4 linked regions of the Homo sapiens genome follow. The protein of the gene in region 1 purifies or fractionates together with the protein of each later gene. This does not show direct contact. Each region holds a gene or a part of one and is shown in the gene's direction. Other genes may lie near its edges.

Region 1 (4,161 bases):
TATCCAAGACCTACTTTCCTGTTCTAATTTTGCAGTGCAACACAGATATCTGTTTGAAGAAGACAATCTTTTACGGTCTACACAAAAGCTTTCCCATTCAACAAAACCTTCAGGTAATTCCAAGTAAAATATTACTATAAGATAACTTGATCTCAGCCTTTCGGCTTGCCAACAACCTTAGCTTTAAGGAGGAAAGGAAAGAAGGAAGTAGGAAATAGTATAGAGGAAAAGAGAAGAAAGAATTTAAGTAAAATGAGAACTAAAACATAAACTAAAAGAAACTCAAGTAGTGTTCCTCAGTAATCCACAGTAAGGGCCACTTCCAGTGTTGGAAGCATATACAGTGCTTTCCTGGTATTTACTGGATCTGGCTGCATGGAAAAAGTGGAACATGTCTTTCATTATGGTTTCCTCCATATGCTGATTCATTCCTATTATTATGCGTCTGGGAAGTCTGGTGGATTCTAGAGGTGAACACTTTCCATCTGCTTTCTCAGGAAGCCCTTTGGAAGAAAAACACGATCAATGCAAATGTGAAAACCTTATAATGTTCCAGAACCTTGCAAACGAAGAAGTAAGAAAATTAACACAGCGCTATATCCTTTTCTTGCATTATGCTTCTGTATGGAATGCAAAGAATATTATCAAAACTTCACACACTCTATGTAGGTTTTATCAACTGAAGTAAATCCCACGAAGTCACAAAGAACAGTGATCTCCAGGAAAGGCTTTTTGCTTTAAAAAGCAGCCTCACAGGTGTTTGAGAGGCAAGGGCAAGCCAAGCTTATTAGCAGCAGTCAAGCACTTAGTTGCCATCGGCTGTTCTCGGGGGCTTAGCAATAAGGCCTGTCAGTCAGCATACAAAGTAAGGAAAAAAGAGACACTGGCCTAACTCCGTCTCTGCTAGGAAGGTGTGTAGGACATGATGAGGTCTGAAGTGCATCAAAGGTACGGTAAGTATAGACAAAGAATGTTGTAGAATGAAGAGGTTTCAAACTCAGTACTCCAAACTTTTCCTTTAGCCCCAAGGAACACCACAGCCACATATAGATTCAGTGTGTTTAGTTTCTGGAGGACAGGAGTGGTTTTTTCTTTTTTTTCCCTTGGCAGCAGAGATCTTCTCTATCGGCACTCTAAAAAATGAAACACTCCACCAAGGGAACAGCAGGATCCAATGATTCATTTAAACAATATTAAATAAAAGGAATGCTTGGGGATAATAAAGAAAAGAGGATTCGGTGCTTTTACATATTGAACACCCTGCCAAGTGCTCTAAACTTAAAATTACAGTAAGCGTACTAAAGCTGGCTGATATCTCAAGTGCATCAACTAGTCTATAGGGAAATGGCTTAATTCTGAACTATCTCTGTGCCAATGGGCTTATGTAATAAGGAACAACAGCATAGGGCAATTCCATTTCTGAAAGCTGGAAATACGCTCCCTTAAGTAAAATGAAATAATCTTTCTGAGTGGTTAATTGACGAATATGGGCTCTCATTCTGCCCTCAAGAGGGCAGATAGAGGGTACTGAGGAGCTTACAGGGAAGACCAATACCTATTCTAATGCCCTTTTCTTCTCGCTTGCCTGTCCCACCCCAAAGTTCTACTCACAAGAGACTAAAGAAGACATATTTTTACATAGGTCAGAATTCCTCAAAACCGTGGCCTTATGTAGCATCATGGTGAAAACTCCGTATCGCCCTTTGCTTCTGACTTCATATCTTACTTTCCAAGGCCGAATTCTTTCATTGTCTTCTCTTCACCAGATTCCCAACATTATCAATTCTGGCTCCTAGAAGTGTGCTATGGCAAACTAATTTGCAAGCATTAAGGGTGGAAGTGGAATCACAATTAAAAAAAAAAAAAAAAAGACTGCAGCTGGGTGCTGTGGCTCACACCTGTAATCCTAGCACTTTGGGAGGCCGAGGTGGCCTTGCTTGAGCTTAGGAGTTCGAGATCAGCCTGGGCAACATACTGAGGCCTTGTCTCTTAAAAAATAATAAATAAAATAAGGCCGGGCACGGTGGCTCACGTCTGTAATCCCAGCACTTTGGGAGGCCGAGGCAGGCAGATCACCTGAGGTGGGGAGTTCGAGACCAGCCTGGCCAACATGGAGAAACCCCACCTCTACTAAAAATACAAAATTAGCTGGGCGTGGTGGCGCATGCCTGTAATCCCAGCTACTCGGGAGGCTGAGGCAGGAGAATCGCTTGAACCCAGGAGGCGGAGGTTGCAGTGAGCCAAGATCGCGCCATTGCACTCCAACCTGGGCAACAAGAGCGAAACTCTGTCTCAAAAAAAGAGAAAAAAAACAAAAATAAATAAAATTAAAATTAAAAAGACAAATTCACACTGAGCCATCTGGCTTTGCTGATGTTAAAAAAAAAAAAACCCAAAATATTTGTCTTGACAGAATATGTTAAATGAGTTCTACAAATTTACAAGTCAGGGTTTTAACATACTTGACAGAAATGGGAAAAAAAACCAAAACCTTTTAGATTTCAGAAGCCAAAATTTTACGTGGATAAATCAAGTTATATTTAAATGTAAATAAAAATAGACAATTCTTCATCTTCCTTAATTTGAGATTTACTAGAAGAAATGACACAGAGAATGGAAGCCCTGGAAAATCGCCTGAGATACAGATGAAGATTAGAAATCGCGACACATTTGTAGTCATTGTATCACGGATTACAATGAACGCAGTGCAGAGCCCCAAAGCTCAGGCTATTGTTAAATCAATAATGTTGTGAAGTAAAACAATCAGTACTGAGAAACCTGGTTTGCCACAGAACAAAGACAAGAAGTATACACTAACTTGTATAAATTTATCTAGGAAAAAAATCCTTCAGAATTCTAAGATGAATTTACCAGGTGAGAATGAATAAGCTATGCAAGGTATTTTGTAATATACTGTGGACACAACTTGCTTCTGCCTCATCCTGCCTTAGTGTGCAATCTCATTTGACTATACGATAAAGTTTGCACAGTCTTACTTCTGTAGAACACTGGCCATAGGAAATGCTGTTTTTTTGTACTGGACTTTACCTTGATATATGTATATGGATGTATGCATAAAATCATAGGACATATGTACTTGTGGAACAAGTTGGATTTTTTATACAATATTAAAATTCACCACTTCAGAGAATGGTATTCAGTGCAAAAATTCTTAGTTTAACTTTAAATGGAAGATATGTATGTATGAGAAATGGCCAACATGCCTATGAAAAAAATGCTGAATCTCATCAGTAATCAGGAAAATGCAGGTTAAAACAATACCATTTTTCACCCATCAGCTTAGCAAAAATGAGTATATTTTTTAACAAGTGTTGGTAAGGATGTGGAAATGTGAGGTTCTTGTAGTAAGAATGCAAATGGCACTCTTTGTAGAGTAAGTCTGTTGACATCTCATAAAACTGAAAATGCACACAACCCTGTAAATCTAGCAACTGCACTCAGTTGATTTCAGCCCATACATACAAAGAGACCTGCATAAGAATGTTACTAGGCTTTGTAAAAGCAAAAAATAAGGAACAACTTAAACATCATCAGAAGGGGAACTGATAAACTCTGGTGTAATCCATACCACAGAAATACAACACCGCATGTACAGGAATGTGCTACATCTATACAAATAAATGGTCAAACTCAAAACAAAGATGACTTTAAAAAGAATGACAAAATGTTTAGCATACCATTCCTGAAAATTAAAAAAACAAAATAAAAAATGTCACGGTGAAACCCCGTCTCTACTAAAAATACAAAAAATTAGCCGGGTGTGGTAGTGGGTGCCTGTAGTCCCAGTTACTCAGGAGGTTGAGGCAGGAGAATGGCATGAACCCGGGAGGCGGAGCTTGCAGTGAGCCAAGATCGGGCCACTGCACTCCAGCCTGGGGACAGAGCGAGACTCCGTCTCAAAAAAAAAAATGAAAAGAAAAACCTAGATGGGTACCCCACTACACACCGAGGCTGTTTGTTATATACCCCATTGCTCCTAGACTACAAACCTGTACATCATGTTACTGAATACGGTAGACAACTGTAAAACAATGGTAAGTGTTGTATCTAAACACAGAAAAGGAATTTTTCAGCCTTATTATAATCTTATGGGATCACTGTTGTATATGCAGTCCATCACTGACCAAACGTCATTCTGAG
Region 2 (3,500 bases), on another chromosome or scaffold:
CTGAGGGTGGTGTTCTCTTGGGAGCTGTGCACTTCCAGATGGCCCCATCTAATCTCCACGCGCCAGGCACTGCTATGGCATGACGCTGATAACCCGGGGAGGTTTGTCTGTAATCTCCACTTTACATATGTCCAGAGAGGTGAAGCCACTTGCCTGAGGGCACACAGCTAGGAAGGGGCAGAGTTGCAGTTGAGCCCAGGCCTTGGCTCCAGAGTGAGTGCTCACAGGTGACCTGCTGACTGGCTCTCTGAGATGGTAACTGCAGAACGGCCACCTGTGGGACTCCACAGCAGAGAAGCCATCAGGCCACAGGGAGAGCCGGTCACTGGGGCCTGCGCAGTCAGGCAGCCTCTCTGAACTGGTGAAAGGCAAGACGACGTAGTAGCTAGGACAGTCACAGGGAAGAGCATTTCAGGCAGAGGGAAGGGCATGTGTGAAGGCCCTGCGGTGGGAAAGCAGGTGTCTCATTCAGAGAAGGGCTCACTCAAGGGTCGGGGGCTCTAGTTGGGGGTGAGTGGGAGGAGATAGGGCAGAGCTGCCACGGCCAGTGAGAGTTGTGTTCTAGTCTGGGGGTGCCTCTCTTTACCTGTGGTGTAGCCTCAGGTCAGTGGCTGAATTCTGGTCAGTTTCAGTTTCCTTGCCCCTGCCTGGGGGCTGCTATGAGGCTGGAGTATGTGGAGGACACCCCAGGACACCCCGTGCTGAGAGCCGGGACAGGCGGGCTTATCGTGGGTTGCCAGTGGCCGCCGAGAGCCTCTGTTTGTTGTGGTGATGGTTGCCACAACGGCTGCACCTGGGCAGCCCTGGGCTGCCTGGCCATCTGGGCCCAGCTCTGACGTCTGCAGCAGCCTGAGGCCTGTTTCTAGGCTGTCTCCATGACGGCCTCACCCACTCCCTCTGACAGCTGGGTGGCTTCCCCATGGAGCCTGTGGCCCTCCTGATGCAGGCTTGGTGTCCCCAACAGGCCGGTGGATGCAGAGGCCAGTCCATATACCACCCAGGCCTGCGAGGAGCGTGGTCCCCACCCATCCAGCCCATATGTGCAAGTGCCCTTGACAGGTGGGGAAACTGAGGCTTGGTGAAGGGGGGGCCACATGATACAACATTCCCAAATCCCAAGGCATGAGGTGGGTGGCAGGCTGGGGCCAGAGGGACCAAGAGCAGAGAGAGTGCAGGGAGGGTGTGGCGTGGACCCCACAGGGAAAGGGTGGGACTCAAGGGGCTGGGGGCAAGGTCAAGGCCCAGGGTCTCTGTGCAGAGCTTTAATTTTTAACAGAAAATATTTTATATTCTGGTTACGAAAAGCCTGACATCAGGAATAAAAGCTACCTATAATTCTCATTACTTAGGGCAGTTTTTTTTTTCACCTCTGCAGAGAGGCTGGTCATATCCATGGTGACCATTTATGGGCCACAACAGGTCCCCATCTGCGCAGTGAACCCTGTGCTGAGCACCTTGCAGACGTGATCTTGCTTCGTCCTGCAGCACTGTGCGGGGCAGGTGGGTGGCATTTCTGCCTCGAGCTGTTTTGTACATGAGGAACCCAAGGTGCAGAGGAGGGCACCATGCCAGGGTCGCAGAGCTGGAGTTTACCACGGCTGCGCCACTCCAAGCCCAGAGCCTCAGAAGTTCAGAGACTTTGGCCCAGAGGCAGGATAGAAGTGGCCTCAGAAGCTGCTGGCCCTGTGTGCCATGGTTTTTCCTGTTAGAATGTGCTGAGCCTCTGCATCTCCAGACTCTGTTGCCGTTTCTTGTTGAGCACGAGACTTGGGCCCCTCCTTCCGCCTCAGGGAGGGCTCCCTGTGGCAGGGGTGCTGTGAGCCATGGCCTGGCCTGTTGGGGTCTGCGAGTCAATAAACTCAGGAGTGACTCCTGGCCAGACCCCTGACTTGCTGTGCAGCCTGGGGCAAGTGGCTTCACCTCTCTGAGCCTGTTCCCCAAGTAAAGTGAGGTTGGGAGCCCCTCCCTGTAGGGCTGTGGGAGTATCTGGAGTCACAGATGAGAAGGGCCCTGCCTGTGGCCGGTGCTGTGGCTGTGACAGACTCGCAGTGAGACCCATGCGGTCCCTGACAGCCAGGGTGTTGCTGCATCTTAAAATGAGATAAAAACGCTGCGCACAGGAGTAGTGACTAGGCGATTGATTCATGGGGTGAGCAGTTAGCAGGCAGGCACCCAGTGCATGTGGCGGCAGCTGCTGCTGCTGCTGCTGCTGCTGCTTCTGTCTGTGGACGCTGTTGTTTCCTGAAGCCTCTGGGGCCTGGCAGCGGGGTCCCCGGGGTGGCTTTGGTGGAAAGGCTGCAGGTATCTGCTTGCCTGGCTCCTGCACTCTGCCCACCTGCCCCAGGATGGACCCTGGGACCCCTGTCCCTGCCAAGGCTATTCTGTTTCCTGTTGTTCTGGCCTTGTCTTCCCAGTAGCGGTAACCACCCTTCGCCCTCCATCTGGGCTGGGTTGGCTGCTGGGCCCCGGTGCGTGGCTCTGAGATGGGGCCACAAGTCTGTGTTGCACCGTGGCCAAGGCTGGATCTGAACCTGGCTTGGAGGCGGCTTCAGAGACTGGGGTCTTCTTGGCAGGCGGCAGCAGGGCCATGGGCAGTTTCTAAGCCCCAGTACCAGCAGCCAGGGTGAGCCAGCAGCAGGGAGTGGCGGGTGGTGGGTGAGGGCCAAGATGTGGCAGGATCATGCTTGGGAAATGATGAGGCAGAAGCTCCCACAAGGGCAGGCATGTGGCCAGCATGTCTGTACTGGGTGGTCTCCGGGAGCCGTGTCACTCCCAGCCCTGCTGCCTGATGGTGCCAGAGCACCAGGTGACCCTGGCATCTCTGATCCTTGCTTCTCCTGCCTGTGGAATGGCGGCTATGCCTTATTCAAAGGGCGGCCCTGACTACAGGGAGCTCTCTCTGCATGCCAGCCCCACTGTGCCTGGAGCCCCAGAAATGCTGACCCTCCGTTAGTACCAGCTGAGTGCTGTGCACCTGGCCAGGCTCTTGTAGCCAGCCTGAGAGGTGTGGACACTGGGGCCTCTCGCCTGTCCCTAGGGGTGGAGTGAGGAAGGTACTGCCCCGGGACTCTGGCCTGCCTGGTGCAGGGGAGGGGAGAGAGCCAGCGCTTTTCAGGGGAGGGAGAGAAACGGGCATCGGGTGTCGGCCTCCAGGGTGAGCAGGGCCCAGCAGAGCTAGCCTGGAGGGCAGCCCGGGCTGGAGTCCCCGCCTGCTCCACCGCCTGTTGCCCTTTCTGGGGGCCTGGCCTTCCTCATCTTGGATGCAGTATGAGCCCCATCCTGCTACCTGCAGCTAATGAAGCCCCTGTACAGTGGCTGCTGCAGGTGCTGGCTGGACCCCCGCTGGGCCCCTTCTCACCCCACATCCCATTGACTAGTCAGGCAGGGCAGTGAGGACACCTCACAGATGGGGAAACTGAGGCCCAGGGAGGTACTCAAGATGTGCCCAGTGGGCAGGGCTGAGATAAGGCCCTGGAGTCCAGCCTCCAGGCCTGGGTCTG
Region 3 (4,027 bases), on another chromosome or scaffold:
TAAAGGGCGTCTGTGACTCCTAGATCTCATTATGCCTACTACCATAACCTACCCCCAATTCCTAATATTCTCCTACCCTAGAGGGGGGGAAATTGTCAGAAATTTGGCTGCAACACTAGCAACACTACTCAGTACTTGAAATGCATTTTTGCATTTTTTTCATTCAACAAATATTTCTGGAACAACTCTTATATGCCAGGCACTATTTTAGGAGTCAGGGATATATAATGGTAAACAAGACAGGCAAAACAAAGCAAAGCAACAACAACCATCACCAGATAAGTAGACAGATGAAAGAATTTCAAGTTTTAGTAAGTAAAATAAAACAAGCAAGGGTCTGAAATGGCTAGATAAGGTGGTCAAGAAAGGCTTCATTGAGAAGGTAGCATTTAAGCAGGAGTCAGCTAGAAATATTGTGAAATTCCAGTTACAGTTCTATTTGTTCTGGGTTGGTTAAATAAAGCTTTTTCCCCCAAGGTGGAAACTACCAAGAAAGACTAATTACTAGTAGTGGTGGTGCTCTCTGGAAGAGAGACACCTCCTGTTTCTGCCTCATTACTGTCAACCCTTCACTTCCAGGCACTTTTTGCAAAGCCCTTTGCCAGTCAGGGAAGGCGAGAGGCTGGGCATGGGGCTTGGACATTTGACAACAGTGAGACATTATTGTCCCCAGACTCACTAGCCCAAGGGTAAAGCTGAAGAGGCTTGGGCATGCCCCAGAAAGGCCCCTGATGAAGCTTGGAAAAAGCTGTTCTCTGAGTATTTCTAAGTAAGTTTATCTGTGTGTGTGGTTACTAAAAGTAGTAAGTATTGCTGTCTCTAGCTGCCTTAGAGCAGGGCTTGACACAGTACACAGCAATATTAGTTCCCTCCTTTTCTCACCTCCCCCATTGTGGAGATAAACTCAATCACAAAAGGTGATCCTCAGTCTACTCACTTCCCTGACTTATGGATGCCTGGACCCATTGCCAGTGTGAGAGTCACAGCTGGACGTCAGCAGTGTAGCCCAGTTACTGCTTGAAAATTGCTGAAGGGGGTTGGGGGGCAGCTGCCGGGAAAAAGGAGTCTTGGATTCAGATTTCTGTCCAGACCCTGACCTTATTTGCAGTGATGTAATCAGCCAATATTGGCTTAGTCCTGGGAGACAGCACATTCCCAGTAGAGTTGGAGGTGGGGGTGGTGCTGCTGCCAACTCTATATAGGGAGTTCAACTGGTCACCCAGAGCTGTCCTGTGGCCTCTGCAGCTCAGCATGGCTAGGGTACTGGGAGCACCCGTTGCACTGGGGTTGTGGAGCCTATGCTGGTCTCTGGCCATTGCCACCCCTCTTCCTCCGTGAGTAAAGCTGGGACTAGAAGCGAAGGATTGAGTTCTGGGCTAGGGTAAGGTAGGGCCAGTTTTTAGGCCTCGGTCAAATTTGGGGTCAGGGGCTATGGGAAAGGGATCGGTCCCAATGGATCAAGATATCTATTTTGTTCTCCCTAGGACTAGTGCCCATGGGAATGTTGCTGAAGGCGAGACCAAGCCAGACCCAGACGTGACTGGTGAGGCCCTGACTCCCTAAGTCTGTCTTATCTGTCTGGTTGTGTCTCTGCATTTTATCACCTTCTGGTTTTTTTTTTTTTTTTTTTTTTTTTTTTTTTTTTTTACTTTGCCATCTCCCTACCTCCACCCCAGAACGCTGCTCAGATGGCTGGAGCTTTGATGCTACCACCCTGGATGACAATGGAACCATGCTGTTTTTTAAAGGTAGGAGGGACTGAGGTTAGGGCGTTTAGGACCTTAGACTTACTCTCCTTCACAAAGGGTGTCCCTGTCTGTGGGAGGTCTTAGGAATTATCTGATGGTATCACTGACAGCTTCTCTCAAGCTATCTCAGTAGGTCAAAGGTTTCTCACTGGGCCCCTCAGTGAGTGTGGGTTTTTTCAGGGGAGTTTGTGTGGAAGAGTCACAAATGGGACCGGGAGTTAATCTCAGAGAGATGGAAGAATTTCCCCAGCCCTGTGGATGCTGCATTCCGTCAAGGTCACAACAGTGTCTTTCTGATCAAGGTACTGCTGGGCCAAAATCAGGGCCAGGCTGGAAAGGGCTGGAATCGACACTGGGGACCCTTCCCCCAAATGGCCTTGGCATGGAGCCCATAGCAATAGGTAGCAGATTTCTTTCCCATGTGCCCTCCTTTCCTGTAAAAGCTTGGGCTAAGGGAGTGTGCATGCGTGTGGGCCTGGCAGGTGCACCATCCAGTGGCTGTTCTTCAGTCCTAGTCTTAGTTCTACACCGCTCTGCTGTACCTCACACTGCTGGCCATCCTTTTTTTCTCTGGCAATTGCTTCCCTTGCCTTCCATGACCCTGTATCAAGTCCTCTTCATAGGGCAAGGCAAGTTGTTCCCAACACAATGGCACCTGGCTAGAAGAGCATGTGGAGCATGAAATCCAGTCTGCTGTGCTCACCAAGTCCCATGTGACCCAGGCTGTGTCTGCTCAGAGGAAGGGGTGCCTTTTCCTACCTTGCCAAAGGTGCTGTGTGGTTGGGGAAGTCCTGACTGTCGGCTTTGTTTTCCCTCCTGCCTCTTTTCTCTCTCTTCTCAAATGTCTCATTCTATCTCAACCAGTTCCCTAATGTTCCTTGGGGATCCATCCTAGCCTTTCCATATACCTTCCCTCAGTGATCTCAACCATCACCTTGGCTCTGAGGAATATCTATGCTGTGGACACTGGATCTAGATCTACTTTCTGAGCTCCAGACATCTCTTTCCAATTGTATGTTCTACAGGCACCTAAAATTCAGCATCCCCCAAACTAAGCTTTGCATCTTCTTTACAAACCAACCTTTCCTCCTGTGTTTCCTGTTTCAGTAAATGACCCCAAAATGTGCCTGATTACTACAAACCAAGTGCACACAGGGTCTCATGATCTGGGCCTTGGTTATCTTCTCAGGTTTATCTCCTCCCCTGCCACATTCACTGTGTGCCAGCCATACGAATCTACATGAGGTTGGAGCACACTGCTTCCTCATGTTTGGGCTCTGCATGCTGCTCCCTCTGCTGGTAACACCCTTTCCTCACTTGTCAACCTGGAAAATTCCTGCTGATTTTTCAGCTCTTGGGCCCAATGCTTCCTCTTTGGTGTGAAACCTTCCACAACTTCTCTAGGCAGACTTAGGCACTCTGTCTATATTCTCAGTGCACTCTTTACACTACACCTTGGTAGTTGCATGGCTAGGATTGCAGGAGTCCTTTCTGCTTTTGTACAGTGAACTTCCTGAAGTGAAAGACAGAGTCTTGTTATCCTCAGTGCCTCTCACAATGCCTGGCATATAGTAGTTATTCAGTGACTGTTTCTTGGATGAATGAATGAATGAATAAATAAATGAAGAAATGAATGAAGAAATAACGTATGGGTGATTGCAGGATGAACAGTTGTGGATATGTTTGTCAACACTGATAGTGTTGCAGATAAATGTGCCACAGGAGTGTCTGGGTACAGAGCTAGAGGCATGTGTGTTATAGTAATAGTGACTGGATTTGCACAAACTGAGAGTGTGTAATGTGCAAAAGGACAGCACATTGTTGTCCACAGATGGACTGAGAATGTGTAGGGCCACAGGAGGATATCGTATAAGCACAGTAGATAAAAAATGTGTGTAAATGCAGAGTGGCAGTATCTGGGGATGCACAGTCAAAAAGAGAGTACTTTTGAATGCAGGGGGACAAAGTCTGGGTATACCCTCCTGAAAAGAAGGAGAAAGGATACCCAAAGTTGCTCCAAGATGAATTTCCTGGAATCCCATCCCCACTGGATGCAGCTGTGGAATGTCACCGTGGAGAATGTCAAGCTGAAGGCGTCCTCTTCTTCCAAGGTCAGTCCAGGCTGGAATCCAAGAACCTGGAGTAGTGGTGGGTTGGTAGTGATGCCAGTAGTGATGGTGATAGTGGTAGTGATGGTGGTGGTGGAGCCACTATGTGGCTTTTTAAGGAAGGGAAATAGAGAAGCCACGTATGGTCTAGAGGTCACGTGAGGGAAGGAG
Region 4 (3,500 bases), on another chromosome or scaffold:
GCAGATTCTAAGAAAACCGCCCCTTGGAGAAAGAGATTCAGGGCTAAGACCATTTCCAAGTGTTCAATTAATTATACTGAAATGCCCCCAATTGGTCATTTAAAATACTTATTAGTAATAATAGACCACTTTACCTACTGGGTAGAGACTATCCCACACTCAAATGCAACCACCAGTAACGTAGTTAAGGCATTAATTGAAAACATTGTACCCAGATTTGGACTAATACAAAGCACTGATTCAGACAATGGAACCCATTTCACTGCATATGTCATTAAAAAGTTAGCCCAGGTACTAGACATAAAATGGAAAAACCATATCCCTTGGCATCTCTCCTCCTCAAGAAGAGTAGAAAGGATGAATCAGACTCTAAAAAGCCACTTAACTAAATTAGTTCTAGAAACTTGATTGCCATGGACTAAATGTCTTCCTATTGCCTTGTTAAGAATCCGAACTGCTCCTCAGAGAGATACTGGCCTTTCCCCTTATGAGATGCTCTATGGATTGCCCTATTTATACTCCACTGCTAACATTCCTACATTCAAAATAAAAGATCAGTTCCTCAAAAATTATATACTTGGTCCATACTCTACTTTCTCTTCCCTTAAGACTAAAGGTCTCCTAGCACAGGCGCCACCGCTGGAGTTTCCAGCACATTAGCGTCAGCCTGGAGACCATGTCCTCATAAAAGGGTGGAAGGAAGGCAAACTCAAACCAGCTTGGGAAGGACCCTACTTGGTGCTCCTAAATACTAAGACTGCAGTCCGAACAGCAGAATGAGGATGGACTGATCACACCCGCGTCAAAAAGGCGCTGCCACCTCCAGGATCATAAACCGTCACTCCAGGGCTCACCCCAACCAAATTAACTCTAAAAAGGGCTTAATAATCACTTGTTTATTTTTTCTTTTCTTTCCAACAGAAGGTCATCTTGTCATCAATGTAACTTGGGCTAACCATCCTTTAATCCTTCAGTTTGATGCTTGTTCAGTCATCCTGTGTGGAGACAAGCAAGCTCAAAGGAAGCTGTCTCATGTAGATAAGTACCTATGTCCATACCATAAAAAGTCAACCAAGTATAAGTATAGAACCTTAAAAAGTCCCTGTGGTGACTGGACAGATGTTTGGAAACCACTCAGTATGGAGGGTGGACAGCCAGGCCCCCTTTTTCAAATAAGTTATGGGGACTAAAACAGAAACTCCAACTAATTCATGGTCCCACCCCACCAAACTGTAAGCCACTGCAGTGTAACCCCTCATTGCTAATTATAGCTAACCCCCAAACAATGGCCCAAGAACCCACTATATTCAAACAGTATGGATTAGGAGCAAATGTTACAAAACAAAATCCCATAAAAATCTTCAACCACTGGTTAACAATGATAATTAAAAAAAAATCCACACCCAGAGTCTGGGAAACGAGTGGAATCTAACACTCTCTCCAAGTATAGCGAGCTCAGCGTCCTCCTCCCATCTCCAAAACAACCCAACTAAAGTAACGGTTGTAAAGGTAAAAAATTTAAAGCAGACTATAGCCCTAGAGACAGGATGTCAAGATGCAAATGCTTGGCTAAAATGGATTAAATATTCCATCTGCACTTTAAACAAATATGAATGTTATGCTTGTGCTCACGGTAGACCAGAGGCCCAGATTGTCCCCTTTCCACTCAGATGGTCTTCTAACTGACCGGGCATAAGCTGTATGGTAGTTCTCTTCCAAGATCACACAGCCTGGGGTGACAAATCATGTCAAGCTCTTTCTCTGCTGTTCCCTGAAGCTCAACACCCTGAGGGTCAGCCCCCGAGGGCCATCAGCTTCCGTTTCCCAATGCCAATTTTACTTTGTGTCTCTCACAACAGGGAGAAAACTTGGTGTTCCTTGGAGCCTTAATGGGATGCAGTGAGCTTAAGTCCTTCCAAGAGCTTACCCATCAGTCTGCCCTTAGTCATCCTCGAGCGGATGTATGGTGGTATTGTGGTGGACCATTACTGGACACTGCCGAGTAACTGGAGCAGAACATGCACTCTAATTCCATTGGCTATCCCTTTCACCCTGGCATTTCATCAACCAGAAAAGACAGAAACCAAACACTGTAAAACAAGAGAGGCCCCTCATGGGTCTGTTGACTCCCACATTTATATAGATTCCACTGGAGTCCAACGAGGAGTGCCAGATGAATTTAAGGCCCAAAATCAGACAACTGCAGGATTTGAATCCACGTTCTTCTGGTGGTTAACTATAAATAAAAATGTGAATTAGATAAACTACATTTATTACAACCAATGATGATTTTTTTTTTTTTGACGGAGTTTTGCTCTTGTTGCCCAGGCTGGAATGCAATGGCATGATCTCGGCTCACCACAACTTCTGCCTCCTGGGTCCAAGCAATTCTTCTGCCTCGGCCTCCCGAGTAGCTGGGATTATAAACATGTGCCACCACGCCTGGCTAATTTTGTATTTTTAGTAGAGACAGGGTTTCTCCATGATGGTCAGGCTGGTCTCAAACTCCCGACCTCAGGTTATCTGCCTGCCTCGGCCTCCCAAAGTGCTGGGATTACAGGCATCAGCCACTGTGCCCAGCCTATGATTTGTTAATTATACTAGAGATGCTCTTAAAGGGACAGCTGAACAATTAAGACCCACCAGTCAAATGGCCTGGGAAAATAAAATAGCATTAGACATGATACCAGCGAAAGAGGGTGGAGATTGTGTCATTATCGGAACCCGATGCTATACTTTTATCCCTAATAATACTACTCCAGGTGGGATCACACCAAAAGCACTACAAGGTCTTACTGCCTTATCAAATGAGCTAGCCAAAAATTCTGGACTAAACGACCCCTTCACAAATTTAATGGGAAATTCTTTGGCAAATGGAAGGGATTTATGTCCTCAATCCTCATGTCTCTTGCCATCAGAATAGGGTTGCTTATTCTTGTAGGATGCTGTGTCATACCCTGTGCCCTAGGATTAATACAAAAGCTCATTGAAACAGCTCTCCCCAAAACCTCCCTCAATCCTCCTCCTCCTCGTTCCAGTGAGCTTTTTCTTTTAGAAGACCCAAGTAGAATAACAGAGCCAAATTATGTTAAAAGGGTTTAAAGAAAAAATACTGTAAAATATTTAACAGGGGGATTGTTAAATACAGTAAGAAATTCTTCTTCAAAGGTTCAGCTTGCTTAAGTTTCCTTGTTCTTTGCTCCCTGCTTTCAAGGCCAGACTTCCTTACTCTCTGTGTTCTCCCTGCGCTGGTAAACAACCTTCCCGCCAGTCGTTATCTATAGAGCCCACATTCCACATCTGCTACCCACTCTGTGAATTACCCCTCCCATCACAATGGCTTCTCCCGGCAAAACTGATCTTCCTGCCTTCCCAGCAGTGTAATCACATTCCTGCACTTTTCAAGTTAGCCAACCGGGTTCAGCTTAGATTGTACGGTCCAACTCTAGCCAATGGAGTCAGGATACAGTAGCAGGGACAAGCTGCGTTAGACATAAAAA

The links. Proteins that work in one complex are often made in the same cells at the same time.
Region 2: the proteins of MATN2 (region 1) and MAP2K3 purify together in Homo sapiens (affinity purification with mass spectrometry, with the first as the bait; one large-scale study listed by BioGRID). This does not show direct contact.
Region 3: the proteins of MATN2 (region 1) and HPX purify together in Homo sapiens (affinity purification with mass spectrometry; one large-scale study listed by BioGRID and IntAct). This does not show direct contact.
Region 4: the proteins of MATN2 (region 1) and HPR purify together in Homo sapiens (affinity purification with mass spectrometry; one large-scale study listed by BioGRID and IntAct). This does not show direct contact.

What each region holds. Positions count from the first base shown.
Region 1 is NC_000008.11:98,033,064-98,037,224, forward strand, and holds the end of MATN2 (matrilin-2 isoform a precursor), read left to right. Parts: coding exon 1-113; intron 114-497; coding exon 498-596; intron 597-2,593; coding exon 2,594-2,649; 3' UTR 2,650-3,661; downstream 3,662-4,161.
Region 2 is NC_000017.11:21,294,711-21,298,210, forward strand, and holds part of MAP2K3 (dual specificity mitogen-activated protein kinase kinase 3), read left to right. Parts: intron 1-964; exon of another isoform or gene 965-1,059; intron 1,060-1,375; exon of another isoform or gene 1,376-1,500; intron 1,501-3,500. UniProt on the Homo sapiens protein: Dual specificity kinase. Is activated by cytokines and environmental stress in vivo. Catalyzes the concomitant phosphorylation of a threonine and a tyrosine residue in the MAP kinase p38.
Region 3 is NC_000011.10:6,438,188-6,442,214, reverse strand, and holds the start of HPX (hemopexin precursor), read left to right. Parts: upstream 1-1,227; 5' UTR 1,228-1,251; coding exon 1,252-1,334; intron 1,335-1,484; coding exon 1,485-1,543; intron 1,544-1,676; coding exon 1,677-1,748; intron 1,749-1,928; coding exon 1,929-2,050; intron 2,051-3,705; coding exon 3,706-3,859; intron 3,860-4,027. UniProt on the Homo sapiens protein: Binds heme and transports it to the liver for breakdown and iron recovery, after which the free hemopexin returns to the circulation.
Region 4 is NC_000016.10:72,069,726-72,073,225, forward strand, and holds part of HPR (haptoglobin-related protein isoform 1 precursor), read left to right. Parts: intron 1-3,500. UniProt on the Homo sapiens protein: Primate-specific plasma protein associated with apolipoprotein L-I (apoL-I)-containing high-density lipoprotein (HDL).